Homo sapiens: one gene and its partners. The protein of the gene in region 1 purifies or fractionates together with the protein of each later gene. This does not show direct contact. Each region holds a gene or a part of one and is shown in the gene's direction. Other genes may lie near its edges.

Evidence for each region.
Region 2: the proteins of UBXN2B (region 1) and CDC42BPB purify together in Homo sapiens (affinity purification with mass spectrometry; 4 studies listed by BioGRID and IntAct, with this or other methods). This does not show direct contact.
Region 3: the proteins of UBXN2B (region 1) and ACTR6 purify together in Homo sapiens (affinity purification with mass spectrometry; 3 studies listed by BioGRID and IntAct, with this or other methods). This does not show direct contact.
Region 4: the proteins of UBXN2B (region 1) and ASPSCR1 purify together in Homo sapiens (affinity purification with mass spectrometry; 4 studies listed by BioGRID and IntAct, with this or other methods). This does not show direct contact.

Annotation. Positions count from the first base shown.
Region 1 is NC_000008.11:58,413,409-58,421,872, forward strand, and holds part of UBXN2B (UBX domain-containing protein 2B), read left to right. Parts: intron 1-3,441; coding exon 3,442-3,545; intron 3,546-8,464. UniProt on the Homo sapiens protein: Adapter protein required for Golgi and endoplasmic reticulum biogenesis. Involved in Golgi and endoplasmic reticulum maintenance during interphase and in their reassembly at the end of mitosis.
Region 2 is NC_000014.9:102,931,170-102,936,303, reverse strand, and holds the end of CDC42BPB (serine/threonine-protein kinase MRCK beta), read left to right. Parts: intron 1-2,460; coding exon 2,461-2,592; 3' UTR 2,593-3,924; downstream 3,925-5,134. UniProt on the Homo sapiens protein: Serine/threonine-protein kinase which is an important downstream effector of CDC42 and plays a role in the regulation of cytoskeleton reorganization and cell migration. Regulates actin cytoskeletal reorganization via phosphorylation of PPP1R12C and MYL9/MLC2.
Region 3 is NC_000012.12:100,203,295-100,211,758, forward strand, and holds part of ACTR6 (actin-related protein 6), read left to right. Parts: intron 1-1,645; coding exon 1,646-1,763; intron 1,764-2,381; coding exon 2,382-2,450; exon of another isoform or gene 2,451-2,463; intron 2,464-4,368; coding exon 4,369-4,492; intron 4,493-6,778; coding exon 6,779-6,914; intron 6,915-7,000; coding exon 7,001-7,057; intron 7,058-8,464. UniProt on the Homo sapiens protein: Required for formation and/or maintenance of proper nucleolar structure and function. Plays a dual role in the regulation of ribosomal DNA (rDNA) transcription.
Region 4 is NC_000017.11:81,993,814-82,002,277, forward strand, and holds part of ASPSCR1 (tether containing UBX domain for GLUT4), read left to right. Parts: intron 1-1,007; coding exon 1,008-1,065; intron 1,066-2,178; coding exon 2,179-2,252; intron 2,253-2,606; coding exon 2,607-3,033; exon of another isoform or gene 3,034-3,221; intron 3,222-8,464. UniProt on the Homo sapiens protein: Tethering protein that sequesters GLUT4-containing vesicles in the cytoplasm in the absence of insulin. Modulates the amount of GLUT4 that is available at the cell surface. Enhances VCP methylation catalyzed by VCPKMT.

The DNA of each region.
Region 1 (8,464 bases):
TTCCCAAATGGTACCTTGGATATTGATTATTTATAGATTATCTTGTTACCGTTTAATCTAGACATGCTTTTCTTAAGAGTTACGCAGTTCGTGCAGCTTTCAGTAGATATTTCTTACTTCCCTAACAGCTTGCTCTAAGAGTCTTTCAGAGTGAGTAAAGGGGCAACATATTACCAATTGGAACAAGCAGAATTACCCCTGAGTAAGTGTATCTTAGCTGCCATGCAGTGTAGGGTTTGTCAGCATCTGAATCAGGAGGGAGTGTTCCAGGTACCACCAGAGAAAAGCTGCATAGTTGCTTCCCAAAAGGCCTCCCAGCCCTGGGAGCCCCCAGGTTACAAACTGCAGACTCGGAAATGTTTTTTTGCATATCAGAGTAGATTTTCATAGCTCCCTTCATCCCCCTCAAATAAGGAGATGGTCATGGGGAAAGTTAGGGGTGGGATTGTTAGTGGCAAAACTAAGCCCAAAACCTCACCAGTGTTCAATAGTATTTCTGAATTGCTTTCTCTTCTGGTGTCCCTCAGCCCGCCACACACATGTTCATTAAGGTATTTAGTTGTATACTCTGTCCCAGTTTTCCTCCACATATTATCTGTTTCTACATAGGTTGGACGGGGAGGGAGTGGGAACAGGGATAACTTCAGTATTGTTAGGGTTAGGATTGGATTTGTTAGGATGGACTCAATAGTGGGTACTATAAATGAGAAGAATTAAAATGTCTGATAGCTGTTCTGATAACTGTGTTGCCACAAGTACCCTAATCATATTGAATGTCATTATTCTGTATCGTTGATTCTCTAGTATGCATCTGTGACCTGGAAGGCTTGTCAGAGATTGCTGGGCCCTACCCCAGAGTGTGATTCATTGGTTCTAGAGTAGAGTTTAAGCATATGCATTTCCTAGAAGTTCCCAGGTGTCTGTATAATAATCATTTATTACAGCGTCTAGAATTGGTTACTCTAAGGCTGAGAATTCCAATACTTTTAATATTTTGCTATATACTTTATTTTCTCACCCGATTCCTTTGCTTTCAGGTTTCAAGTTCTTCACATTTCAAATTCTAGAGGAAAGATTATCAATACTTTACTTACATACTTTATCCTCTGCATATTATTGAAACATTTTCTTAATTACGTTTTGAGATTTTTTTGTTGTGTTAGTTTTGACCAGTACTTCAATTAATATTTATCAATTTAAATTATCATTTCCTCTTTTGATGTAATGTCATCTATGTTAAATAATATAAATTAAATTTCTTTGTAGTATTTACTAATGAACTCATGCCATATGATGCCATATGGCATCAACTCCCTCTAAATATTACTCATTTTCTTCTAAGTTTTTAATGATGTACCGTTAATAACTAGGATCTTTCAGCCAGGTAGACTCTTTAATATCATTTTCCTCATATTCCTCTTTTCTTAATGTATGTTCCACATTCCATGGGGCTAGTGGCATTTTTGCTTTTTTAATTTATGTCACCAAAGAAAATTGTTATTTGATTGGAAGCATTTATTCAAATCTTGTTAAAGCAAAAAGTGTTTAACAAATATAACCCCAATTTAAAATACATCTATCTATATCTATTTCTGATTCATTTTCTATTATGTTCTTTATATAATTCAACGTCAATTTGTTGCCTTTTAGGTACAATATTAGAAACAATTTGAGAAACTTAAAATCTAGTTGGGGAAATAAAACAGCAAAAGTACACAAGTAATGACAACATAATGCTTAATATGAATGTCATTGGGGGTATTACGTGCTATGAGTATTTAGAAAAAAAGATATTAAGAAGATTAGAAAAGGTTTTGTGAAGGAGAGCTGAAATGGGCCTTTGAAATACAGATGACATTTTCATTGATGAGAATAGGAATATCATAAAAGTAATTCATAAAGCTGACATAATGAGCTTAGAAGGAAATCCATAAAATAATACTACTTTAAAGAAATTTCAGGGAGGTAAAATTTCTGAAAACTTTAGACCCTAGTCATCAGACTGTGTATGTGCATGTCTGTCTCTCTCTCCTCTATCATTTGTTTGTTTTTTGTTTTGTGTTTTTGGAGGGGATGGAGTAGTAAAGGACCATAAGGAGATATAACACTGTAGGAAGAAAAAAAAATCTTGGGGAAAATGAAACACTGATACAATCATTACTAAACATTTAAGAATAATATCTTCTAGTGATGGAACACATGCTTTGTGCTTTCCATACATTATTTAATCCTTCAAATGACTACGGTGATTTTTTATAGGCATTTGAAGATGTGGTAACTAAGGCTCAGAGAAATTAAATAATTTGCCCAAGATCACACAGGAAGTGCCTAAGTTACGATTTGAATTCAGTCCTTTTAGATTACCAAACACTTTTATAATTCAGATTTCTAGCAAAGTTGCCATTGTACAAATATGAATGTTACTGAATGTGGGAGGGTAGGGGTAAAAAAATTAGAAGTCTTTCATTTTGTTTTATTTGTGTATATTTTAAAAGTTGACTAATAGAATTTTCAAAGAATTAACATTGCCCCAATGCCCTGTTCTTCTTGGAGGTAGTTTTCATATCATTTGTGTGTCTAAAAGGAGCATTTTAATCTGTTTTGTTATGATTTTGGGTTTTTTTGTTTGTTTGTTTTTTGGGTTTTTTTTGAAAAAAACAAAAAAAAAAACCGGAGATTATGGTCATGCCAATTATAATTGAATAGCCACAGGAGCATTAAAGAAAGTTGTTGAGTTGTTGTCCAAAGATGTCAAAAGTCAGAAAAAATTCTATACAATACTGAAATATTGGATTACTTTTTAAAATTCCATTTTAAGAACAAATATAATTTTATTTCATTTTGAAATAAACTATCCAGCCAATATCTAGAATGTATAATTTGGTAATATTACTTTCTAAATGGTATATAAACCATATATAATTTATGGTCTTGTTTGTTCAGAAACTCATTTTCCTAAACACGATGAAATTTATAAGTTTGGTAGACTTTTAAATAGAATACTTCTGAAATTGTTTTATATGCTTGGAGTTTGAAAACTTGAATAGCTGAATGAAACTATTTTATGAGATCTGATGGAAGAAGCTGACGTTAGTGTGAACATCTTCAGGAATTCTTAAAAGAATTGCACAAGAATTTTAGGTTTAAATTTGAAAATGGTTTGTTACCTAAAACAGATTTTGACACTGTTCAGTAGTTAATTGAAAATAATCAAGTAATTATTATAACTTAAAGTTATTCTAATAGATGTGGCATTTTGGTTAGTTCTATATAATGAGATGCAGTAAGTTTATTTCAGAAAGGAATCATCTGAAGCAGCAGCTTTTTTCATGAAAAGTCTTTACCACTCAATTTTAAGTTAGTGTTCTATACATAACTTCTAGTTGTATGGAAGAGGTTATTCCTAGTGTTATACTTTGTAACAAGCCTGTTATTATGTAGTTGGCCTTGGCAGAATTGTATGAAGATGAAGTGAAGTGCAAATCTTCCAAGTCTAATAGACCTAAAGCCACAGTCTTCAAGAGCCCACGGACACCACCTCAACGGTAAGTTTTATTTTGTTTTGTTGTAAAAAGAAATTATAATCCTTTCTAAAAATTTACTAACTTCAAATTATTTTAAATGGCCTTCTTCAAGGTTTCTTCAATAATTTTTAAAAATTATTATTCCAAGATCGAGGCAGATTTGGATAAAAAATAGAAATGATTAATATCATTTAGGTACTATTAAAACTTTTACAATCAGAAAGCCAAAAGAAACTTACGGAAAAATTACCTTAAAATACCTAATATTTTGGTAGATATCATATGAAATTATATCCTGAATACTATTTTTCTTGGGCACAATGGTTCTTTAATATTTTTTGAGTCATAGGACTCATTAAGGGTCTGATGAAAGCTATAGAATTCTCCTCTCAAAACAACTTTCATGTGCAAGTTTGTCATTCGTTTTTAAGGATATGTGTGTTTCTTGAAGCCACTCCATGGAGCCTCTGCAGGTCTTTTGTCCTCCATTTAAGAATCTATGATTTTTGAAGTCTGTCTCTTCTTCCTTTGGGTGATGATTCCTCTAATGTGTGACCTCCTAAATAGTATTTGTTGTTATTAAAATCCCTGAAGTATAAAAACAACCAACTGTGAAGACTTAAGAGATGAGAACCAGGTGTCTTTTATTGCTGTGAGTTTTCTTGTTGCCAGGAATATTTTCATTAACATCTTTTTAGTACTGTAAATACCATCCCTGGGGAAGAAACGTCAGTTTTCCCATTATATCTTATTCTCAGAAAGTCTATTTTATAAGTTTTCAGTTCATCAAAAAGCAAGACTAGTAGAGTAAATACTGTGTTTACTTCACCTATATTCACCAAGTTGGTACAATGTTACATTGAACTTGTGCACGCATGTATTCTCTCTCTCTTTTTTACTCAACTATTTGAAAGGAAATTGTAGCCATCATGACACTTCACCTCTAGATACTTCAGCATGAGTCTCCCGAGAAGAAGCACACACTTGCAAAATTGATAACACCTTACAAAATTAATAGTAATTCAGGCGGGGAGTGGTGGCTTATGCCTGTAATCCCAGCACTTTAGGTGGGCCAAGGTGGGCAGATCACTTGAGGTCAGGAGTTCAAGACCAGCCTGGCCAACATGGCAAAACCCCATCTCTCCTAAAAATACAGAAATTAGCTGGGCATGGTGGCACGAGCCTATAATTCCAGCTACTTGGGAGGCTGAGGCACAAGAATCGCCTGATCTTGGGAGGCAGAAGTTGCAGAGAGCCGAGATGGCGCGACTGCACTCCAGCCTGAATGATGGAGAAGGACTCTGTCTCCAAAAAAAAAAAAAAAAAAAAAAAAATTAATAGTAATTCTGTGATGCCATTTAATATATAGTTAGTAGTCACATATCTCTTATAGCTTTTTCTTTGGATTTAGGATTCAACTGAGGACATTGCATTGCATTTAATTATTCCTGTTTTGAATTTCTGAATACACAGAACTCTTCCCACCTTTTTATTGTTGTTTTTAGCTCAGCTACATAATCTAAAATTTATTATGTTGACTTTTTTAGAGAGTCTAGGCCAGATGTCTTATAAAATGTCTAACATTGTAGATCACTGTTTCCTCATGATTAGATTTTTATTAGAATTTTTGTCGGGTATGCTAGATAAGTGATATTGTCTGCTATTTATTACATGACAACAGGAGTCATAATTTCAGGATTTTCCACCATTAGTGATATGTTCATTTGGTTAAGGTGCTGACCACCACAGCACTCCATTGTAAGATACTGTGTGTCCTTTGTAATCAGCAGTTTGGTATCTTGACACTAGTTGAACATCCTATTCTTTCATTTAATTCTTACCTTTATACATATAAAATACTGTATTTTTAGCTGCTTCTTTAATTTGTATATTCTCCCAAGTCTTGAAAGTACTTAATATGTATCTCTGTACTTGCATTTTACTCACTATTTGGCCACTGTTTCCCCAGTTTGAACATAAGTTGAATGACTTAATATTTGAGTTCTTATCATAAGATTACTGTATTAATATTTTCCTTGCTATTCAAATATAATCATTAAGATATTTCAGTGAAGGGTTTTCTTTTATGCTGTCTGAAACAATGCTGTGATTAATAGGTATAATTCAGTAATCCAGTTTGTAAGGATTTTGTGCCTCACATTTGATTTCTAGAATAATTTATCTATCAAAAGAACTGAGTTTCCTTAAAATATATAGGTTGAGACGTAAACTGTGTTTAATCTGTTTATAATACAATGTATAGCAGATTGTTCGCAATCTTTTTTTCTACGTATGATATCTTCTAATGCTAAGTGTATACTTCCTTTGATTTCATATTCAATATCGAAATTTTCCCAGTTTCGTTGTATTTCTACAGGTCTGTTTGGTACAGAAAACAGTGCTTATTTTCATGGTCCACCTCCTTGGGCGGTATTTGAAATCAAAACAGTTATTGTCTCATTGTCATTTTAAGCCAAGACAGTTTCATTATCTGAAACTCTGGACATAAGATGGTCTGTGTTTTTAATTTACAAGAGGAGTTACGTAATCTACAGAAAGACCCTCAGGATATAGTCTGATGCCTGTTTTGACATATTCATCCATGAAAAGTTAAATATCACAATCAGAACTTGGATATGTCCTCCACAAGTCATTGTATAGTAGTATTGCTTTGAGAATTAAATGAGATAAAGTGAATAAGATGCCTAGCACAGAGTTGGTACTTAGCTGGGCCTTAAAAGGATTTAAGATATTAGGAGTTAGATAAGCACAGAAGACAAGGGACAAAATTCCAGGAACAGAGAGTCACATAATCAAAATGACCAGAGGAACCAGAAAAAGAACCAGCAGAACTTTAGTAGCTTAGTAGCAAATAAGGTTGGATAGATGGGGGTGCAGCCAGGAAGGCTTTCATAGGCATGTGACCTGTGCTATTGCACAAGGCCCCATGCTTAGAAGGGCCCTGTGCTTGGAGTAATGCTTTGCTGTTACTGTTTTGAAATTCTTAATTGGTTTTGAACAAGGGGACTCGATTTTCACTTTGCACTGGGTCTCACAAATTATGTAGCCAGTTGCGGATACAGCCTTGAAGACCAAGAAGATAAGTTGCCCCTGTGTAGAAGGCAGTGGAAAGTCAATTTGTCTTTTAATAAAAATTTAGTGACAAAACTATAATACAATGTTAAAAGCTTTGACTCAAGATGGATACATCTCAGTTGTAATTTTTTTGTTTTCATATAAGAAAATGGTTTTATTCCTAATTTTTAGTTCCCATACAGTTTACAAATACACTTTTACTCTGATAATACAGCTTTGCAACTAGCAAAGCAGTTGCGCTAACACCCATAAATATAGGTGGGGAGACAATTAACATCCACTAATGTTTCTCTACATAAAGTATTCTTTTAATGTCATTTTTTTAAAAAACAGTTGCAAATAGACTACATAATGTAAGTGGGCAAAAAGGCAATTAAGTGAATCTCTTGAAACACTAAATGTATAATAAACAGCATATTATCAACATTTACATGATTCACATCAAAATGATGACATCCTAAAACATATTCCCTTTAAAAGATTTATCAATAAAATATTAAATATCTTTTAATACTCTGGTACTTCATATACTGCAGGAAAATTAATTGTAGGTCTAGTCATCAGCTTAATCAGGGATCCTTTTCCCATTAGCTTTTATTAATAAAAGAATTACAATTAGGTCACAAATAAACAGACAAATTATTAATTACATGATTTGAGGCTTAGGATGAAAACTTGTCAAAATTAGTTTGATATACAGCAAAGTTATATGACCCACTAAAACCAACTGTTCAATAGTTTTTGCCTTGTGTGAACTGCCTGTAGTGAAAAAAGAACAAATTTTTAATGATGAAAGATACAATAAACTATATTTTGGAACTTTTCAAGAGGAAGAAGGAAAAGCTATTTCAATAAAATTAAGGGCAAATACAGATCCTGACAAAGGCATCCTGACATCAGGGAGGCCATGTGCTTGCTATATGTAAAACTTGATTCCCCCAACAACATACAGAAAATAAAAACTGCACTGGCTTTGTAGTTATGTCTACAGTCTAAGTTTCCCTTATGGATACTAAGCTAAAATAAAACACTTCACAATTGCAAACCTTTCCACATCCCCCTGAACTAAAAATAACTCAAGATATTATTAGTTTTAAAATCCCCAATAAAATTACCTCTAAAAACAATCTTGACCATTTTCTTGACTGTTTCCCCGAAGCAACTGGGCTCTTTAAAGAATGCACACACACCAAGAAAGTCCTACACATGTTTTCTCATCCCCATTTAGCCACATTTCAAAAGACCTTGATTTCAGTGGGAGAGATGACCATAAGTTTCAGGAAGGCCACACACTAGACATGAAGCACCTTTTAGTTTTTTTTTTTTTTAAAGCTATTAAGACTGTGAAATTTGTCTTTTTTAAAAAAACCCAATACCATGTGCCAGATAACTCTTTCACCCCAAAATATAAAATCCTATGCTTATAATTTTAAAACCCTCAGTGAGCTCTGGAATATTGTGCATATTTAATACCTACCAGCAACCTAGAAGTAGACAAATACCATGTATTTGTCATACCAACTTTCCAAATAACCTGACTCACCCATTACTGACTGGGCTCTCTCATTACTGGCCCTGGGCTCTCTCACTTCCTCAGCAACCACCTCTTTGGAACTTTAATTTCCACACCTTTTTTTAAAACCTGCACCTCAAGCTTTCTCCATCATCCCAGCCTCTCTGCCTGATTCCATCCCATGTAAAGTAACCTCATCTGAGAACCTGCAATCACCTTTTACCAAACACATGATAAGCCTTAGCAACCTAGGGACTATGATAACTCTGGCCTTGGCCTAAGGTTACATAAGAACATGATAGTTTGCTGACCTTGTGGAGGGAAATCTAAA
Region 2 (5,134 bases), on another chromosome or scaffold:
GAACACGTGTGTGCACATATGTGTTTGAGTGCCTGTTTTCACATTCGGGTTTATGCCTGTGAGTGGGATTGCTGGATTTATGTGGTAATTCTATGTTTAACTTTTTGAGGAACCACCAAATTGTTTTCTGCAGCAGTTGTACCATTCTATATTCCACCAGCAATGTGAGGGTTCTCATATCTCGACATCCTCACCAATACTTGTTCTTGTTTTTCTTCTTTTTAATAGTCGTCCTGGTGGCTATGAAGTAGTACCTGATTGTGGTTTTGATTTGCATTCTCTAAAGACTTATGTTTAGCATCTTTTCATATGCTTGTTGGCCATTTCCGTACCTTCTTTAGAGAAATGTCTACTCAAGGCCTTTACCCATTTTTGAAATGGGTGGTTTGTCCTTTTGTGGCTGGGTTGTAGGAGCTCCTGGCATGTTCTGAGTACCAGGCTCTTGTGAGAGATGTGATGTGCAGATGTCTTCTCTTGTTCTATGGGTTGTCGTTATTTACATTCCTCATAATTAATGTCTTTTTTTTTTTTTTTTTTTTGAGACAGAGTGCAGTGGCACGATCTTGGCTCACTGCAACCTTTGTTTCCTGGGATCAAGTGATTCTCATGCCTCAGACTCCCAAGTAGCTGGGACTACAGGTGCCCGCCACCATACCTGGCTGATTTTTGTATTTTTAGTAGAGGCGGGGTTTCACCATGTTGGCCAGACTGGTCTCAAACTCCTGACCTCAAGTGATCTGCCCGCCTTGGCCTCCCAAAGTGCTGGGATTACAGGCGTGAGGCACTATACCCGGCCTAGTACAGCCATCTTAACAATATTTTTACTCCACGAACATGAGATGTGTTCCATTTATTTAAGCTATTTTTTCAGCAATGTTTTGTAATTTATAGTGTACACATTTTTCCCTTCTCTGGTTAAACTATTCCTAGCTATTCTTTTGGATGCTGTTGTAAATTGAATTTTTTTTTTCAGTTTCCTTTTCAGTGTGTTCATTTCTGGTGTATAGAAACACAACTGACTTGTGTGTGTTGATCTTATACCCTATAACTTTGCTGAGCTTATTAGTTTTTTGTGGATTCTTTTCTTTGGGATTTTCTACGTGTATAATCATGTCATCTGCAAAGAGAGATAGCTTTACTTCCTTCCTAACTTGGAATCCTTTTCATTTCTGTTTCTTCCCTGATCGCTCTGCCTAGAACCTCTAGCCCCATGTTGAATAGCAGTGGTGAAAGCAGGCATCCTTGCCTTGTTGCTGATCTTTTTTCTTTTTTTCTTTTTTTTTTTTTTTTGAGACAGAGTCTCACTCTACATGTAGCCCAGGCTGGAATGCAGTGATGCGATCTCGGCTCACTGCAAGCTCCGCCTCCTGGGTTCACGCCATTCTCCTGCCTCAGCCTCCCGAGTAGCTGGGACTACAGGTGCCCACCACCATGCCAGGCTAATTTTTTTTTGTATTTTTAGCAGAGACAGGGTTTCACTGTGTTAGGATGGTCTCAATCTCCTGACCTCATGATCTGCCCACCTTGGCCTCCCAAAGTGCTGGGATTACAGGTGTGAGCCACCGCACCCGGCCCGTGGCTGATCTTAGGGGAAAATTTTGTCTCTCACCATTGGGTATGGTTAGCTGTTTTATTTTGTTGAGGAGGTTCCCCTCTATTCCTAGTGCTTTTCTCAGGAAAGAGTGTCGCGTTTGTGACTTTGACTGCTTGGTTGCAGGTGCGCACCACTGTGCCCGGCTGATTTTTGTTTTTTTTGTTTTGTTTTGTTTTGTGACGGAGTCTCGCTCTGTCGCCCAGGCTGGAGTGCAGTGGTGCAGTCTCGGCTCACTGCAAGCTCCGCCTCCCGGGTTCACGCCATTCTCCTGCCTCAGCCTCCCCAGCAGTTGGGACTACAGGTGCATGCTGCCACGCCCGGCTAATTTTTTGTATTTTTAGTAGAGACGGGGTTTCACCATGTTAGCCAGGATGGTCCCAATCTCCTGACTTTGTGATCCGCCTGCCTTGGCCTCCCAAAGTGCTGGGATTACAGGCGTAAGCCACCACGCCCGGCCTGATTTTTGTGTTTTCAGTAGAGATGGGGTGTTACCACATTGGCCAGGCTGGTCTCAAACTCCTGACCTCAAGTGTGATCCACCCACCTTGGCCTCCCAAAGTGCTGGGATTACAGGCAGGAGCCACTGCGTCCGGCCCCATCTGATTTCTTCACTACAGAGTTGCTGTCTTTTGTAATGATAATTACCATGTTATTTTTGAGTGGGATTAGACATCAATTTGTGACTCTCACCAGCACGCCTAAGGGCCCCACGAATCGCTGGTGTAGAGCGTGTGTGTTTTCATAACATGAAGGGAGAAGAGCAGTTGCGACAGTTGTCCCTGAGCAAACATTTGCATCCAGCTGGGCACGCGTGCCTCCCCAGGCTAGGGCAGCGGGTGCTCACCCTGCCCTCTTCCTGTTCACAGCCTGATTCGGACTCCACCAAACACTCAACTCCATCGAATAGCTCCAACCCCAGCGGCCCACCGAGCCCCAACTCCCCCCACAGGAGCCAGCTCCCCCTCGAAGGCCTGGAGCAGCCGGCCTGTGACACCTGAAGCCGCCAGCTCGCCACAGGGGCCAGGGAGCTGGAGATGGCCTCCAGCGTCAGTGCCAAGACTGAGCGGGCCCTCCAGTGTTGTCCAAGGAAATGTAGAATCACTTTGTAGATATGGAGATGAAGAAGACAAATCTTTATTATAATATTGATCAGTTTTATGCCGCATTGTTCGTGGCAGTAGACCACATCTGTTCGTCTGCACAGCTGTGAGGCGATGCTGTTCCATCTGCACATGAAGGACCCCCATACAGCCTGTCTCCCACCCCTGACAACCCGAGAGGGCATATGGGGCCCTGCCAACACCACTTCCTCAGCAGAAACCCGTCATGACGCGGCTGCTTCGGAAGCAGACATCTGGGGACACAGCCTCAGTACCCAGTCTTTTCCCTAGTTCCTGAAACTTTCCTAGGACCTTAAGAGAATAGTAGGAGGTCCTATAGCATTCCCAGTGTCACTAGAATTTTGAAGACAGGAAAGTGGAGGTTAGTCTGTGGCCTTTTTTTCATTTAGCCATTGCACAGTCAGCTGCAGAAGTCCTGCTGACCACCTAGTCATGGACAAAGGCCCAGGACCAGTGACACCCTGCGTCCCTGTGTGCATTAAGTTCATTCTGGGTCGCAGCCATGAAGTGTCACCAGTATCTACTACTGTGAAGTCAGCTGTGCTGTTTTCCATTCGCTTCCACGGCTTCTGCCTCCTGCCATAAAACCAGCGAGTGTCGTGGTGCAGGCAGGCCCTGTGGCCTGCTGGGCTGAGGGAAGTCAGAGCCCCAGGGCGCCACGAAGCAGCCACTGGGATACCCCACCCCGCCCCGCCCTGCCCGCCCCCCCCCCCACCAGTCCTGCCCCCGCATGGAGCCCCCGTGATTAGTAGCCCGTATGATCACGTAGACCCACCCAACACACTCCTGCACACTGGCCCCGGCCCACGGCACAGCAATCCCCTGCGCGTGGATTTCACCTCACCCTTTGTACCAGATGTTGAGTGACCAGCTCTGTGGCCCTGTGTCGTCAGAGGCTTGTGATTAACTGTGGCGGCAGACACAGCTTGTCCACAGCTTGGGCCAGGCTTCCCCTGTCCTCCCACCGGTCGGCTGCTTGGCAAGGCTGTTCAGGACGTGCACTTCCCCAAGTCGGCACTGAGTGGCCCAGCACCGCCTAGCCCTGCCACCCCACTGCCCTCCTGGGCCTTCTGCTGGATGGGCACCTGGGGGGTTCTGGTTTTTACTTTTTTAATGTAAGTCTCAGTCTTTGTAATTAATTATTGAATTGTGAGAACATTTTTGAACAATTTACCTGTCAATAAAGCAGAAGACGGCAGTTTTAAAGTTCCCAGTGGTCCGTTTGGATGTGGTAACATGTCACCCGTGTGTCTGGGCCCCAGAAGTGCCTGAGCTCCAAAAGGCAGTGAAGGAGCCACCTTGCAGAAGATGCTATTCGCCAGCAGAAGCTATTCTGGGTAACTCACTCGGAGGTCACCCAAAAGGCTGCTGTTGGGGTGTTCAGCCTGAACAGAGGGCATCCTTGGGGCAGGAGTGAAGGGAGGAGGGCAGCGTGCCTGTGAGCCCCAGCCAGGCAGTGCCAGGGCCCCAGGAGCAGGCTGCCCGCGAGGGTCTGCCTGTCCACACCCATACACGCCAACCCTGCCAGCAGCCCCAAGGGACAGGATGGGGTAGGCCAGAGGCCCCAGGAAGAGGCAGGAGTTCTCGGGGAGGTCTGGGCCAGGGTGAGTGGTCCCTGGTTGAGGGAATGCTCGGAGTCAGTTTCCTGAGTTATGCAGGGAGTTGGCTTCTATTTGCCACTCACTGAGACCTAGTTGTCCTTGGTAGGACAAGGGCAGTGATGGCCCCTGCAGAAGAGTGCGGACCTGGGAGAAGACTGCAAGCCAGGGCAGGCAGCCCAGCACCCAGCGGGGGCACTTGGGACCTTGAGCTCTGTGCCAGGCAGCATGGCCTGGGCTGCTGCTGCAGCAGGCGGCTCCCCTGGAAGCCCAGAGCATCTCTCCTTCCACAGTCCACACCAGAGGCAGGTCCCTGCCAGCACAGTCCATCTGTGACGGGTGAGCAGTGGGTGGCAGGTGGTGTCTGGTCAGCTCAGGCTTGCTCTCCAGTTTGCACCTGACACTAAAGAAAATTGTGGCTAAAAAGTGCGTGTGGGAGTATCGGCCACTTCTTTTAAAAATGCGAGATGGTAGCTGTTGGAGCACACACGTGAACTGTGGCGGTCACTCAACGGGACACTGCACAGCACTGAGAGTGACTCATTCCAACCACAACACAGCCGCACCTCGAAGCACGGGGCCCTGATCTGGGTTACAGCACGTGTCCTGGTGGCTAAGCTGGGCCCCTGGGCAGAAGATTCCAAATGGGGGCCAGGCCATGACTGGGGATGCCGGTGACATCTCCAGCCCCAGATGCTGGTTTCACAGAAGTGGTCACTGCCACAGTTGCAGCTGCACACACAGGGCTGGACCCTTGTCTGTGTCGGTGCAGTGGCGCACGCTTGCACATGGGTGACCCCATATGATCTGCCTTCGCACCC
Region 3 (8,464 bases), on another chromosome or scaffold:
TGGGAACTTAATTTATTTTATTTTTTTGAGACAGAGTCTTGCTCTGTCGCCCAGGCTGGAGTGCAGTGGCACAATCTCTGCTCACTGCAACCTCCGCCTCCTGGGTTCAAGCAATTCTCCTGCCTCAGCCTCCCCAGTAGGTGGGATTACAGGCATGCACCACCATGCCCAGCTAATTTTTATATTTTTTAGTAGAGATGGGGTTTTACCATGTTGGCCAGGCTGGTCTTAAACTCCTGACCTCATGATCCGCCCGCCTCCGCCTTCCAAAGTGCTGGGATTACATGCTGTGAGCCACTGCTCCCGGCTGGAAACTTAATTTTTATGGCCATAATTTTTAACTTGTGAATCTTTTTTTTTTTTTTTTTTTTTTTGAGACGGAGTCTCGCTCTGTCGTCCAGGCTGGAATGCAGTGGCGTGATCTTGGCTCACTGCAAGCTCTGCCTCCCGGGTTCACGCCATTCTCCTGCCTCAGCCTTCCAAGTAGCTGGGACTACAGGCGCCCGCCACCAGGCTGGCTAGTTTTTTGTATTTTTAGTAGAGACAGGGTTTCACCGTGTTAGCCAGGATGGTCTCGATCTCCTGACCTCGTGATCTGCCTGTCTCGGCCTCCCAAAGTGCTGGGATTACAGGCATGAGCCACCGCGCCCGGCCTAACTTGTGAATCTTTAATCCAAATGGTATTAAGACTTTCTGTGTTAAAGCCAGAAAGACTAGGACCTTTACCAAAGCACTGGCTTTCGCCTCTGCAGTGGCGGAAGCAATACTTACCTGTAAGGATTTCTTGAGGATTATTAGAGAAAGAAAGGATCCAGTATAGAACTTGTTACATACTGAACTTTAAAAAAAAATGGGGGAGGGGCATTTTTGTGTTATTATTATTTTAAAATAGAGACAGGGCCTTGTTCTGTCCACCCAGGCTGGAATGCAGTAGTGGGATCACAGTTCATTGCAGCTGCAGACTCCTGCGTTTAAGCAATCCTCCTGCCTCAGCCTTCCTCTAGAAGATAGGAATATAGATGCTCATCACCATGCCTGCCTGATTCGTATTTTTCTCTTTCTGTTTTATTTTATTATTAGTTTTGAGACTGAGTTTTGCCCCATCACCAAGGCTGGAGTGCAGGGGTGCAATCTCAGACCACTGCAACCTCCATCTCTCAGGTTCAAGTGATTCTCATGCCTCAGCCTCCTTAGTGGCTGGGACTACAGGCATGTGCCACCATGCCTGGCTAATTTTTGTGTTTTTTTTTAGTAGAGGTAGGGTTTCACCCTGTTGGCCAGGCTGGTCTCGAACTCCTGACCTCAAGTGATCCATCCGCCTTTGCCTCCCAAAGTGCTGGGATTACAGGCGTGAGCCACCATGCCCAGCCTTATTTTTTATTTTTGTAGAGACAGGTTCTGGCTATGTTGTCTAGGCTGGTCTTGAACTCCTGGTCTCAAGCAATCATCCTGCTCCCAAAGTGCTGGGATTATAGGCATGAGCCCCCACTCCCAGCCTTTGGTATTATTTTAAGACAGAATGAGAAACACTGGATATACCAATCTTAGGATACGCTAATCTTTTGGCATCAAGAGTGGTGGTGAAGTAAAAATGTTTTTAGGAACTAAATATTTAGGGGATAATTATTTGTTTCCTTGTTTCTAGGGTTATTCCTAATTGTCAGTTCCGGTCAAAAACAGCACGTCTTAAAACTTTTACTGCCAACCAGATAGATGAAATAAAAGACCCTTCTGGACTCTTTTACATCCTCCCTTTTCAAAAGGTAATCCAATTAATTATGTTTCATTTCTAGCATTGTAGACCTAAATTTAAAGATAATTTTAATTGTATATAAAAGGCTGTGTGTAACTTAAATTTTAACTACAACCTAATTAAACCCAAATTAAAATTTAATTGTTTGGGTAAAAATAAACGACCATGATTTAGTTACTTATTGTGAGTACTGATTTTTACTTACATTAAATCTAAGTGGTATGCACACATTAATTTAAGAAAATAAGTATAGGGAGGCAACTGTATATATTGGTGTGTCTTTTGAACCTCTGACATTTTAGTTATTGCTTATTTGTGAGTTTGTTTTTTAACTTTTTAAAGGAGAAAAACATACTAACATAATTGGTTTGAAATTCATACAGCAGTATACCTATGTAGTAAACCTGCACGTTCTGCACATGTATCCCAGAATTTAAAGTATAATAAAAAAATTTTTTTTTAAATTAAAAAAAAGAAATTCATACAGCATTACACTGGAAATGGTAACCATAGATAGAAATCAGTGATTTGGAATCTGATTTTTAAAAATTATTCAAATATTTATAATCTGATTTTTAAAAATTATTCAAATGTTCTTGATAATTAAATTTATAAAAACATTTTTTAGGGCTACTTGGTGAATTGGGATGTTCAGAGACAAGTTTGGGATTACCTTTTTGGAAAAGAAATGTATCAGGTAACAAATTAGAGTATGTATTAAAATTCTATTTCCATGTTTAATTGTAATGAAAAATTAGAATTTACATTTTAAGATTTATAAACTTATGAATAATGTTCTCCGCACATTTAAAATAAATAATAAATGCAAGTGAATAAAATTTCCATGTTGAAGTAGAGGTTGAGTAAAGATAGTCTGTATGAAACTCAAAATTTTACTTCAGATTTCTATTATTAGATCAATTCACTATATCATCTTAATTTTCACAAACGTTTTTGCTTACATATCTAAATACATGAATATTACAAGAGGATTTTGTGTTTTTAATGTCTGTAATGTGATTATAGGTATAAGGAGAAAATGTTCAAGTTTTAATACTTCTCAAGAATGTGTGTGAGAGAATTACATAAACTTGAATATCTTAAGCATCTTGCCCTTTGCCTTTTTTTTTTTAATTTAAAACATCTGCAGGCCAAGCGCAGTGGCTCATGCCTGTAATCCCAGCACTTTGGGAGGCTGAGGCGGGTGGATCACTTGAGGTTGGGAGTTTGAGACCAGCCTGGCCAACTGGTGAAACCCCGTCTCTACTAAAAATACAAAAATTAGTCAGGCATGTTGGCACACACCTGTAGTCCTAGCTACTTGGGAGGCTGAGGCAGGACAATTGCTTGAACCTGGAAGGTGGAGGTTGCAGTAAGCCGAGATTGCACTACTGGATTCCAGCCTGGGTAAGACTATGTCTCAATAAATAAATAAATACATAAATAAAACATCTGCAAGTTTTTTTTTATTATGATTTTCTTTTCTTTTTAATAGACATGGGGTTTCACCATGTTGCCCAGGCTGATCTCAAACTCCTGGGCTCAAGCAATCCGCCCAAGCGTGAGCTACCGCACCAGCCCCATCTTCTCTTGTTTTGTCTTTGTCTTGTTCTGTCCTTTTTTTTTTCTTTTTTTTTTTTAGGGGGAGTCTTGCTCTGTTGCCCAGGCTGCAGTGCAGTGGCATGATCTCTGCTCACTGCAACCTCTGCCTCCTGGGTTCAAGTGATTCTCCTGCCTTGGCCTCCTGAGTAGCTGGGATTACAGGCATGCGCCACCACACCTGGCTCTTTTTTTTTTTTTTTTTGTATTTTTAGTAGAGATGGGGTTTCACCGTGTTGGCCAGGCTGGTCTGGAACTCCTGACCTCAGGTGATCTGCCTGCCTCAGCCTCCCAAAGTCCTGGGATTACAAGCTGAGCCATCGTGCCTGACCTTGTTTTCCTTTCATTTAGAAACATAACAGCCCCAATATTTGTTGTATCATTCATTAATGTTTCTATAATTGTCTTTAAACAATTTTATGGTAACATTTTCTTTCATTTTTTAGAGACAGAGTCTTGCTCTGTTGCACAATCATGGCTCACTGCAGCCTCAATTTCCCAGGCTGAAGCAATTAGCCTACCTTATCCTTCTAAGTAGCCAGGACTACAGGCATGCACCGCCATGCCCTGTTAATTTTTATTTATTATTATTATTATTTTTTTAGTAGAGGTGGGGTCTTGCTGTGTTTCCCAGGCTGGTCTCATATTCCTAGCCTCAAGCAATCCTTCCACGTCAGCCTCCCAAAGTGCTGGGATTACAGGTATGAGCCACTGTGCCAGGCTGGTAACATTTTATTAATGCTACCTCTAACAGAAGTAAAATTGCATAATAGTTGAGTACATGGATTCTGTAACTAGACTCCCTGGATTCAAATCTTACCTATGTCATTAAATAGCTCTATGAACTTGGTCACTTATTTAACTTTTCTGTGCCTCAGTTTGCTCATCTATTAAATGGGGATAGTAATAAGACATCACGATTATTGTGAGGATTAAATAAATTTGTTTGTACATGTAAAACAAGTGTTAATTATCATTACAAATTATGAAACATTTTGGAATGTTTTCTCCTATAGGTTGATTTTTTAGATACTAATATTATTATCACTGAACCATACTTTAACTTCACTTCAATTCAAGAATCAATGAATGAAATTCTATTTGAAGAATACCAGTTTCAAGCAGTATTAAGAGTAAATGGTGAGTTCAAGTTTTCACTGAAATTGAGTTATATGACTATGGATATGAATAGGGTAATACTCATAAAGTCCCAAAATATTAAGTGGCATTCTTGGCTAGCACAGTGGCTAACACCTGTAACCCCATCAGTTTGGGAGGCTGAGGCGAGTAGATCACTTGAGTTTAGGATTTGAGATCAGCCTGGGCAGCATGGTGAAACCCTGTCTCTACAAAAAAATAGAAAAATTAGTTGGGCATGGTGACACGCACCTGTAGTCCCAGCTACTTAGGAAGCTGAGGCAGAAGGATCGTTTGAGCCTGGGAGGTTGAAGCCGCAGTGAGCTATGATCGTGCCAGCCTGGGTGACAGAGTGAGATCCTGTCTCCAAAAAAAAAAGAAATTGAATTCTGTGAAGCTTGAATATGGATATGAACCAAGTAAAGAAACTCTTAAAGTTCCAGAATACTATGTGGCATTTTTTAGATTTGAAGGAAATAAGTCTTGGATTTTTCTTTTTCTTTTTTTTTTTTCCGAGATGGGGTTCTGGTCTTGTTGCCCAGGTTGGCATGTGATGGAGCAATCTCTGCTCACCCTCCACCTCCTGGGTTCAAGCGATTCTCCTGCCTCAGCCTCCCAAGTAGCTGGGATTACAGGCGTTCGCCACCATGCCTGGCTAATTTTGTATTTTTAGTAGAGATGGAGTTTAACCATGTTGGTCAGGCTGGTCTTGAACTCCTGATCTCAAGTGATCCACCCGCCTTGCCCTCCCAAAATGCTGGGATTACAGGCATGAGCCACTGCGCAAGTTTTGGAATCTTAAAACTAAATGGACCCTTAGAGATTATATAGTCAGACATCTCTCATTTTATCTTTTTACTAATATTTCTTCTAATGAAGTTACTGGCCACATATTTCTTATTTCTGAAAGATTCTGAGGTAGTTATCTTTCCTGTCATTTATGTGTTTGCAATTATTATTGTTTGTTTGTTTGTTTTTGTTAAGTCAGGGTCTTGCTCTGTTGCCCAGGCTAGAGTGTGGTGGCACAAACATGGCTCACTGTAGCCTCCACCTCCTGGGCTCAAGGGATCCTCCCGCCTCAGCCTCCCAAGTAGCTGGGACCACAGGTATGTGCTGCCACATCTGGCTGATTTATTTATTTTTTGTAGAGACAGGGTCTCATTTTGTTGCCTAGGCTGGTCTCGAACTCCTGGACTGAAGTCATCTTCCCGCCTTGGCCTCCCATAGTGCTGGGATTATTGGCATAAGCCACGGCTCCAGGCCGAATTCTTATTGTTTGAAATAATGTTAGTAGCTCAGGCTGCCAGTGTGAGGGAGAACAATCTGTAAATATCATCTAGAAGCAAGTGTATTACAGGCTTAGATTACATGACATGGTTGGGTACAATGAAAGTATTTAAATATTTAACTTTCAGAATTTAAGTCCATATAAGCAGCAGTATGGGCAGTGGTTAAGGGCACAATCTCAACCAGGTGTAGTGGCTCATGCCTGTAATCCCAGAACTTTGGGAGGCCAAGGCAGCAGGACCACTTTAGGCTAGATGGTCAACATAGTGAGACTCCATCTCTACAAAAGAAAATTAAAAAATTAACCAGGCATGGTGGTGCATGTGTACAGTCCCAGCTACTGGAGAGGCTGAGGCAAGAGGATCACTTGAGCCCGGGAGGTGGAGGTTGCAGTGTGCCATGATCATTACCACCGGGAAGGTGCTACTGGCATCTCATGGGTAGAGGCCAAGATGCTGTTAAACATCCTACAACGCATAGGAAAGCCCTCTACAACAAGGAGTTATCCAACCCCCAATGTCAATAGTTCTGAGGTCTCAACCTACTGCCTAGGTTTGAATCCTGGCTCTGGTACTTCCTAACTGTGTGGCTTTGAGCACATTACTTTACTTCTCTGAGCTTCAGGTTCCTTATCTGTAAAATGGAATTGTTTTGAGTATTAACACACACACTCATTATACAGATTTTAGAATAGAGTCTGGCATGTAATAAATGATCAGTAAAAATGAGCTGCTGTTGTAGTAATTCTTTTAAACTATGGAGTGAATATTTACCTTTAAAAACGGATACCAAATTTTTATTATGTTTACCATGTAAGTGTGGTGTTTTAAAGTATAAACACAATAAAGATCTTTTGACAGTTATGAATAGTATTATAAATTAACATTTTTCTTGTAATAAAGGGAACATTTTTGTCTTGGTGCTTGTCTTTGTTTCCTACCTTTTTAATTGCTTTAAATTAGTGTTATATTTTTGTTCACTTTTTTATCTTTTTTTAAATAGCTGGGGCTCTCAGTGCACATAGGTATTTCCGAGATAATCCTTCCGAATTATGCTGTATCATTGTTGATAGTGGATATTCCTTTACACATATAGTTCCTTATTGTAGAAGTAAAAAGAAAAAAGAAGCAATTATTCGGTGAGTTGTATTTAATTTTCATGTTGTTTCTAAAGATTAAACAGAATGATATGTGCGATAATTAAATTTGAGTTCTCCCCTTGCAGGATAAATGTGGGAGGAAAACTCTTAACCAATCATCTAAAGGAGATCATATCTTACAGGTGATGCTTAGCTTTGATTCTTTGGGAGGATGGGGCTCTGGGGAGGAACCTTTTACAGTAATTTAAGATTATTCCTTACTTTTAAGGCCAGTCATTGTGACTCACGCCTGTAATCCCAGCACATTGGGAGGCCGAGGTGGGTGCATCACTTGAGGCCAGGAGTTCGAGACCAGCCTGGGCAACCTGGTGAAACCCCACTTCTACTAAAAATACAAAAATTAGCCAGGTGTGGTGGTACACACCTGTAATCCCAGCTACTCGGGAGGCTGAGGCATGAGAATCATTTGAACCAGGAGGTGGAGGTTGCAGTGAGCCGAGATCGCGCCACTTCACTCCAGCCTGGGTGACAAAGTGAGACTCTCTCTCTCTCAAAAAAAAAAAAAAATTGTAAATGTTGTACATTAACATAACTTATGCTACTATTTTTAATTTTATTGTGTTTAACACATAAGTAGAATTCTTAAATCTCAATTTCTTGTTACATTAACTTTGGATGGTATCATACCATCAGGATCCCTTTGCTCCCCTATGTGCCCTACTCCTTTGTATTTGCTCCCTGACTGTGTCGCTGACCCCTGGCAACTACTAATTGGCTTTCCATCGCTATATGTTTGTTATCTGAAGAATGTTAGTTTCTTTTTGTTTGTTTTCTTTTTACAATTTTATTATTACTATTATTGTTATTTGAGGCAGGGTCTCACAGTGTTGCCCATGCTGGTCTCAAACTCCTGGGCTCAAAAGATCTCCCATTTCAGCCTCCCTTAGTAGCTGGGATTACTGACCTGCACTTCGCGCCCCTGAGCTTGGCAAGAATGTTACAGTCTCAGATAACTAGAAGGAGGATATTGAGTGTTACCAATACACAAAAATGGATAAGTGTTGAAGATGATGAATATTCTAGTTATCCTGATCTGATGCACTGTGTGGGTTTCTTTTTGATTTTGAGACAGGGTCTTTGTCACCCAGGCTGGAGTGCAGTGGTTTGTTCATTACTCACTGCATCCTCAACTCCTTGGCTCAAGAAATTATCCTGCCTCAGCCTCCCAAGTAGCTGGGACCACAGGCATGTGCTACCACACCTGGCTAATTTTTGTATTTTTTTGTAGAAACAGGTTCTCACTATGTTGCCCAAGCTGGCCTTAAACTCGTGGGTTTAAGCTGTCCTCCTGCCTCAGCCTTCCAAAGTGCTGGGATTACAGGCGTAGCCACAGCTCCCAGCAAAACATCACTGTGTACCTGAGAAATATGTACAATTATTACATGTCAGCTTAAAATATATATATATATATGTTTTAAAGATACTGGTGGGAGAATGAATACTGGGATGGCCACACCCAGTCATGCCATACATTTAGCCATTTTTTCATTAAAAATAATTATGGCCAGGTGCAGTGGCTCGCATCTGTA
Region 4 (8,464 bases), on another chromosome or scaffold:
TGTCCCACCTGAGCCCTTGCAAGGCACACTGGCCATAGGGCCTGGCAGGGCACCTGCATGACCTGAGGCCGGCCCTGGCCTCCCCTTTGCCTAGGCTCTGGCCATCTGCCCCCTCCTCTCGGATTCCCCTCCCTGGAGAGGGACTGATGAGGGGCATCTGCAAGGAAGGCCTGAGAAGGGCTTTTGTTTTTCTCAGTGGGGAGGATTTCACGGTGGGGAGTTGGAAACGCAGAGGCAAGCCCGCCTCATGCAGCAGGTGCCACCAGCAGTTCACATGCTCTGGGGCTGGATGTGACGGCATGTGCCCGTCTCCCGGGCTGCCATGCACATCAGGCATGTGTGGGAGGCGTGCTGCATATACCTGCCCACCCATGCACGGGTCCAGCTGTGCCTCCTGCGGGGCGAGGCTCAGAAAGACACTGGTGGCAGAGTCCGACATGGACTTATAAGCACGGCCTCCCCGGCCACAGGCAAGCGGGCGTGAGCGGAGTGCAGCGCCCCTCCCTCCATGCTTCGGTGACATCAGGCGTCGGCTTTGAAGGAGGACATCAGGCGGTGGAGACAGGGGCACCTCCTCTTAGTGGGCGGCTTAAGATGAAAGCCCAGACGTCGGTACCCTGACTCTCAGGCTCCTGAGTACAGGTGTCCGTGAGCCGCATTCCGGAGCCAGTGCTGCTCGCCCCTCCTGTGCGGTCCCTGGGCCCTGCCGGCAGCTCCACGTCCTGCCAGCGGCCCCGAGACTGGAGGTCTCGGGGGGAGCCCCCAGGCCACGCACCACAGGCCAGGGTCCTTGGGAGCGCCCCCGGCTGTCAGGTGCCTCCTTTTGGTGGTTGTGGGGCGCAGTGGGGCTGAGGTCTGTGGCCTGGGCCTGGGCCTGGGACGCTGTCCTGGGTGGGTGCTGGGTGAGGGCCCCACACCTTTGCTTTCCGAGTCTCCTGCCCCAGGGCCTCCGTGGCACTGGTTGAGCTGCCCTGGGGTACCTGATGGTTTCTTTCCTCTCCTCCCAGGGAGTGCCTGCAGCACCCCGGCGGGGCCACCCCAGTCTGCGTGTACACGAGGGATGAGGTAGGCGGCCTGCTCTTGCTCACCCAGTCCCCGCTCACTTTCAGCCCACTTTCCAACTGGAAAATCTGCTGTCCCGCAGCCGTCTCCAGGGCAGTGGCGGGAGACTCGGGCTCTTGAAAGCACGACGTGTTTCATGGAAAAAGAGGGAGTGGCCGGCCCTCGGAGCCCGGGCTGCCCCGAAACCTCCCTCGGCGCCCTGTTTGTTTTTTCAGCTTCTCTCAAAGCCCAAGAGTCACAAAAGTGGTTTCATTTAATAAATATTTGCTTTGCTCGGTGTTTTGATCATTTTCAAAACCGAGTGTGGCGTGGCGCAAGCAAAGCCCGCCGTGGCGGGACCCTCCTAGCGCTCGTCCCTGGCCTCACAGGGGCCTTTTGTTTCCACGCTGGCTGAGTGCCCTTTGCTGGGGTGGGGGGGCACTGGCCCGGAGGGGCCCTGGGGGGCCAGGACATTCCCCGCATTTATCCCCATTTGGAAGCTCCCTGGCTGGGGCTGTGACGGGGAGGTTCAGGTCTACGTCCTCCCTTGAGGGGATGAGCCACGGGGCTCAGGACCCAGGCCCAGCACTGTCCTGAGGCTGTGGCCCTCAGGGACCCTTACACCCTTTGGCTTTTGTGCTGGGCCATTGACTGTGCCCTCGCTAGAGGCAGCTTCTCCACCCCTTCCTCACAGGTCAGAGTTAGCGTATGGGACGTGGCCAGCCAGGCCCGATCCCTGCCCACCCCGAGCTGAGCACCAGGAATGGCCACCCCCGTGGGTGACAGCACGTTCCTGCCTCTCTCGCTCCGGGCAGTGGGTCCTGGCACCAGGGCTTCCTCCTTGCAGCCCAGCTCTGCCAGCCCAGGCCTCAGTGAGCTTGGGTCCCAGCTGCGGAGACCAGGCTGGGGGAGACACGGTCAGGCATGGGCAGCAGGTCCTGCCCCGGCTGCAGACCAGACTCAAGCTGGGCCTTGTGGAGGGTGTGGACCGGCAGGGGCCAGATGTGGGGGGTGGGTAGGATGGAGGCCAGAGAGGGCACGTGGCCTGTGGTCCTGGTGGTGCCGGTGCCCGGAGGGCTTCCCTGGGCTCTGGGGTCCCGGTGCAAGGCGCACCTGTCCTGGCTGCTCCTCCTGCAGGTGACGGGTGAAGCTGCCCTGCGGGGCACGACGCTGCAGTCGCTGGGCCTGACCGGGGGCAGCGCCACCATCAGGTAAGGGCAGTGCTGCTGGGGCCGAGGAGTCTATTTAGCTAAAAAAAAAAGTGGTCTCAAAGGAAAGGAGAAAGGACACGTGGCAAGTGGGGAGTAGGTGTACCCAGGCCCTCATCATGGAGAGCGCCTGGTGGCCTCTGCCTGCCTGTGGGCGTGGGGGCTGGGCTGCCCCGACCTCATCTCTGTGTCCCCCAGAGGGGCGGTGGATCTTGGGAGGGCGCATGGGGCAGGAGAGGGTGAACCGGGGGCGGGAGAGGGTGAGCCGGGGGCGGGAGAGGGTGAGCCTGGGCCGGGAGAGGGTGAGCCGGGGGTAGGCACCACAAGGTGCTTCCCTTGTCCTCTGGCCCCACTCAGGTTTGTCATGAAGTGCTACGACCCCGTGGGCAAGACCCCAGGAAGCCTGGGCTCGTCAGCGTCGGCTGGCCAGGCAGCCGCCAGCGCTCCACTTCCCTTGGAATCTGGGGAGCTCAGCCGCGGCGACTTGAGCCGTCCGGAGGACGCGGACACCTCAGGGCCCTGCTGCGAGCACACTCAGGAGAAGCAGAGCACAAGGGCACCCGCAGCTGCCCCCTTTGTTCCTTTCTCGGGTGGGGGACAGAGACTGGGGGGCCCTCCTGGGCCCACGAGGCCTCTGACATCATCTTCAGCTAAGTTGCCGAAGTCCCTCTCCAGCCCTGGAGGCCCCTCCAAGCCAAAGAAGTCCAAGTCGGGCCAGGATCCCCAGCAGGAGCAGGAGCAGGAGCGGGAGCGGGATCCCCAGCAGGAGCAGGAGCGGGAGCGGGTAAAAGGGGCTCTAGGCCTTGGGACTTGGGGGTGTCCTTTCTCCTGATGTGTAGCCCTGCGTGGCTTTAGCTGGTCAGCCTGGTGGCGTGGCCGTGATGCGGGCAGAGGAACCCAAACGCGCAGAGGAACCCAAACGCGGGGCTCTGGACAGGAGCCTTCTGACTTCGCCCAGGAAGGAATTTAGGGGTAAGCAGGTGGTAGAGAAAGTAGCTTTACTGAGACGGTGGCTGTGTCTGCTCCGGGATGAGGCCGTGTCCGCTCCGGGATGAGGCCGTGTGGGCTCCGGGATGAGGCCGTGTTGGCTCCATGACAAGGCGGCAACTGTGTCAGCTCCGTGTTGGCTCCGTGATGTGTGGCACAGAGCAGGGCCGCCCTGGGGTGGTGCATGGAGGGCAGCAGCTCAGGGCATGGCCGTGGTCACATTTACATCCACTCAACTACATGCACGTTAAGGGGTGGGGCATTCAGAAATCTCTAGAAAAGGGGTGGTAACTTCCGGGTTATGGCCAGGGAAGGGGGAGCTGGTGAACGCATCAGCCAGTCTTCAATCTGGTCTGGAATCAAGCCCCACCTCCTACCTGAGCAGGGTCACTGGGCTTGTTCTTAGCTTCTCAGGCAAATGATTTTTTTTTTTCTGGGTTTTTTTTTTTTTTTTTTTGAGACAGAGTCTCACTGTGTCCCTAGGTGGGCGTACAGTGGCGCGATCTCGGCTCACTGCAGCCTCTGCCACCCAAGTTCAAGTGATTACTCCTGCCTCAGCCTCCCGAGTAGCTGGGACTACAAGCGCGCACCACCAAGCCCAGCTAATTTTTTTGTATTTTTAGTAGAGACAGGGTTTTACCATGTTGTCCAGGATGGTCTCAATCTCTTGACCTTGTGATCCACCCACCTCGGCCTCCCAAAGTGCTGGGATTACAGGCGTGAGCCACCGCGCCCAGCTCTTTTTTCTGGTTTTAAACCACCTTTACTGAGGCACCCACTTTTTTTTTTTTTTTGAGATGGAGTTTTGCTTCTGTCGCCCAGGCTGGAGTGTGGTGGCGCACTTTCGGCTCACTGTAACCTCCACCTCCCGGGTTCAAGCGATTCTCCTGCCTCAGCCTCCCAAGTAGCTGGGACTACAGGCGTGTGCCACCACGCCCAGCTAATTTTTGTATTTTTAGTAGAGACGGGGTTTCACCATGTTGGCCAGGCTGGTCTCGAACTCCTGACCTCAGGTGATCCGCCCGCCTCAGCCTCCCAAAGTGCTGGGATTACAGGCTTGAGCCACCGCGCCCAGCCTAATTTATTTTTATTTTTATTTTTCATAAAGACGAGGTCTCTCTCTGTTGCCCAGGCTGGTCTCGAATTCCTGGGCTCAAGCGATCTTCTTATCTCAGCCACCCAAAATGCTGGGATTACAATTGTGAGCCACCTCACCAGGCCTGAAAGTTACTTTTTATAATATTGTGGATAGTATCATGCTTCCTGTTACATCTTTGACTGGCTGACTCCTTGCTAGTTCTAGTGGCGTCTTGGTTTCTGTCGGGGCCTCTGCAGACCTTTCCCTTTGTCCTCTCATCGTTTTTCTTCCTGTGTTGCAGCGAATGGGCCTCTGGTGCTTTTGGATCGTGGCGATCTTAGTAGACATCCTTCCTTGTCTTGATCGTAACAGGAATTACTAGTCATTTCTCTGCCAAGGATGATGTGTGCTATAAAAAGCCTTTATCAAGCAGAGAAAGTTACTATTCCTAACTTTCTGACATTTAAAAAAATCTTAAGTGGGTGTTGAACCGTTTCAGTGTTTTCAGCATCAATGGAGATGACCGTATGCTTTATTTTATTGGCTTGTGCATGTGTGTTCATAAGTGAGACAGACTTTTTTTCCTTGCTCTGTCTTCATCCAGTTTGGGAATCGAATTTCACCTGGCTCACAAGGGAGCTGGGCAGTGGCCCCTCTTTTCTGGGTTCTGGAAGTTCTCCGAAGGTTATGGCCACTGCTCACTGCAGACTACACCCACCACTGGGGCACTGGGCCCTTGGCGGGGAGTGCATGCAGGCAGGCGGCCAGGTGCTGACCTCCGAGCATGCCTGTGTGTGGCTGTGGCCTGACCCTCTCCCTCACGCCTCCCCCCAACCGTGGGGACCTCGTGTCTGTGGGGTCCCTGGCCCTGTGGCTGACTTTTCCTTTGTCCCTGTCCTGACCCCGCATCAGAGCCCTGCACCTGGGCTGCTGAAACCTGACTTCCTCAGCTTCCTCACCTGCAGAACTAAGGTGTTCGTGGCATTTATGGGTTTTGTGCCAAAAGAGGCAGACTGGGGGACTGTCATGCGGCTTTCGGTGACAGGGATGGGAGGAGGCTGTTTCCCAGCCCCTGTGTCCCCTGAGGGCCAGGCTGCCAGCTGCCAGCCACAGCCCAGGGGCCAGGTCAGAGCTTCTTGAGCTCCTGCTGACGTAGTGGGCCTGGAAGGCCCCCATGCCTCCATCTCCTGTGGACATTTAAAATATTTGTGTCTGGGCCTGTGGCATGGTGGCTCACACCTGTAATCCCAGCAGTTTGGGAGACCGAGGTGGGCAGATCACCTGAGGTCAGGAGTTTGAGACCAGCCTGGACAACATGGCAAAACCCTGTCTCTACCAAAAATACAAAAATTAGCTGGGTGTGGTGGCAGGTGCCTGTAATCCCAGCTACTCGGGAGACTGAGGCAGGAGAATCTCTTGAACCCGGGAGGCGGAGGTTGCAGTGAGCCGAGATCGTGCCACTGCACTCCAGCCCGGGTGACAGAGTGAAACTCCATCTCAAAAAAAAAAAAAAAAAAGAAAACAAGAAGTGGCCAGGAGGGCTCTGTGCACATGGCCCCGGCCTCGGCTGTCCCCTGGGCACTCGTGCTACGTGTCCCGGAACTCAGGTGAGGTCAGGAGTTTGCTTCCTCCTCCTCTGGCCACTTCTGAGTGAAGCAACCTCATGCCTCCCTCTTGCCTCCCGGCCACACACCTGGGAGGGCAGAGGCCGGGCGTCTGCACCGTGTTGGATGTGGGGGCTCCCATCTAGCCCGGCGTCAGGGTCCAGCCCCTCTGTTTTCTGTCCCCCTGGCTGTCCTGGGACTGTTCCTGTTGAGTGGACAAGGGAGTGGGGAGTGAGGGTGTTGGGTCCATTCTAGGACTATGATGGTGTTGGCACCCCATCCTCCCTCTGGGAACTCTGCCAAACTCTGCACTGTGACACCTGAGTCCCCATGAAGCGCTCGTGCCCCTCGACCCGTGTGCTCCGGGTGAGCAGGGGCTGACCCCCTCTAGGCCTGCTCTTGTGGGGACCCCTCAGTGTGAGAGACACAGTGGCTGTCATGTTCCCCCATTCTAGAGGCGTGGGCCTCAGCCCCTTCCCTCCGTGACCAGGGCGGGTCTTGTCTGCAGAGCGTGGGGCGTGGAGCATGGGGCTCGCAGCCCAGAGTAGTGCCCGCCCGTGCTCGCCCGTCGGGAGGCGCTGTTGGGGTGGGGTCTTGGCTGGCAGGAGGGGTCCAGGGGAGGGAGCGTGTGCCTGGCCTGCATGGCGTGCTGAGGGCCTTTGATCTGGGACTTGGGCAGCTGATTGATGGAGGGCGTCCTGCCTGCCCCGCGCCTCCCATCGCCGCCAGCCGCACACGCAGAGGGCCCGGGGCCACATGCCGCTGCTGGGTCCCTTTCAGTGATGGGGGGAGGGGAGAAGGGAACAAAACAGAACTTTTTTGGGGAACTTCAAAGGTACACTTTAGTAAGCAAAAAGAGTTTCCAAGTTTCCCATTAATGTTTTGCCTGTGTGTGGTTTTTGGACTTAAATAAAGAGTCAGAAGGAAGAGACAGGATAAAATACAGGCAGGTCCTCGGCCGAGACCCGGGGTGGTTCACAGACCCGGGCGGTTCCTGCCTTTGATGTCAGGCATTAATTATTAGAAGGTAGTTTTACTGGCGATCAGAACCGGGCGCTGGGAGAGGCTGGGGCTGCCCGGCGCCCCCTGGCCCTGTCTTTGAAGTGCCTCCACTGGCTGGGAGGCTGCCCTGCAGCCCTGTGCTGGGCTGGGACGCCAGTCCCAGCAGACGCCCCCCACAACTCGGCCTCCCGGCAGCTGGCACGAGGGCCGCTCCTGATCAAAGGCTGGGTCTGCCCGCACGGGCTGGCGGCTGCTGCCCTGCCTGCCCCTCCCGCCTCGGGGGTGAACCTTGCTCCTGGAGCCGGGGCCTGGGGTTTCCTCAGCACCCCTGCTCACACCCGGCCCTCTGTGGCTGACAGCCGGTGTGGGACTCGTGGGGCGGGGAGGAGCCTGTCCCAGGGTTTTGGGGGTAAACCAGCGGGGAGGAGGCTGGGCCTGGAGCGGGTCATGCACTGGGCGTGGTGAATACACCCTGCCTGGGACCCCCGTGTGCCTGGCAGGGCAGGTGCTGTTGACCCTGGGCAGTAGGTATTGGGCCAGGGGCTCCTGCCCCTGGACCCTGACGCCGGGCTAGACAGGAGCCCCCACATCCGACGCGGTGCAGACTCCCATCCCTGCGGCCAGCACAGTCAGTGGCCAGGGTGGCCCAGGTCCCTGCTATGCCTCATGGGTGTCTGAGGACAACCCTGGGCTCTGAGGCTGTCCCTAGGGGCACAGCCTGTGGCCTTGATTGGAATGGCCACCAAGCGTGGCTGGCAGATGGCTCAGCGACTTTGCAGGTGGCTGGCTGAGTCCCGGCTGTTTAGAAGCCTGGTGACTGACAGGCGCTTGTGTTTTGGTGAGGAACCCCGGGGGGTAGGGGGTGGATGCTCGCCACTGGGGCTGTGGGGAGAACTGGGAGTGTGGGGCTCCGTACTGGGCGAGTCGGCTGCTGCAGGGCGCAGACCCCACTGGCCCCTTCTGGCCTGGACTCTCCTCCCCGTTGGGCCCAAGATCCCCTGGTTGGGATTGTTCCAGGAACTCAGGTCAGGGGCCCCGTCAGCCCTTCCCGGGCTCCCCCAGGAGCAGCCTCCAGACTCTGCCCTGCGGATGACCCCCCTCACCAAACTGCTTTTCCTGCCTGTCCGGGGGTGTTGGTGCGCTTTATCCACAGTGACACACGCCTGCCACACCGTAACGTGCCCAGCTCCAGACGGGCTCATGGTCAGCCCAGGCTGCAGCAGTCCTGAATCCTGTTCTTATTTTTCTTTTCTTTTTTTTTTCTTTTTCCTTTTTTTTTTTTTTTTTTTTTTGAGACACAGTCTCGCTCTCTTGCCCAGGCAGGAGTGCAGGGGCACAATTACGGCTCACAGCAGTCATGACCTTCCATCTCAGCCTCCCGAGTAGCTGGGACTGCAGGTGTGAGCCACTGCACCTGGCCTCTTTTCATCTTCTAAAGTATTTTTCTTTTTAAAATTAAAAAGTGATTTTTTTTTCTTATGAGTACCTCATGCTTTATATTTTCATCTTTTCATTTTCATTTTATTTTATTTTATTTATTTTTT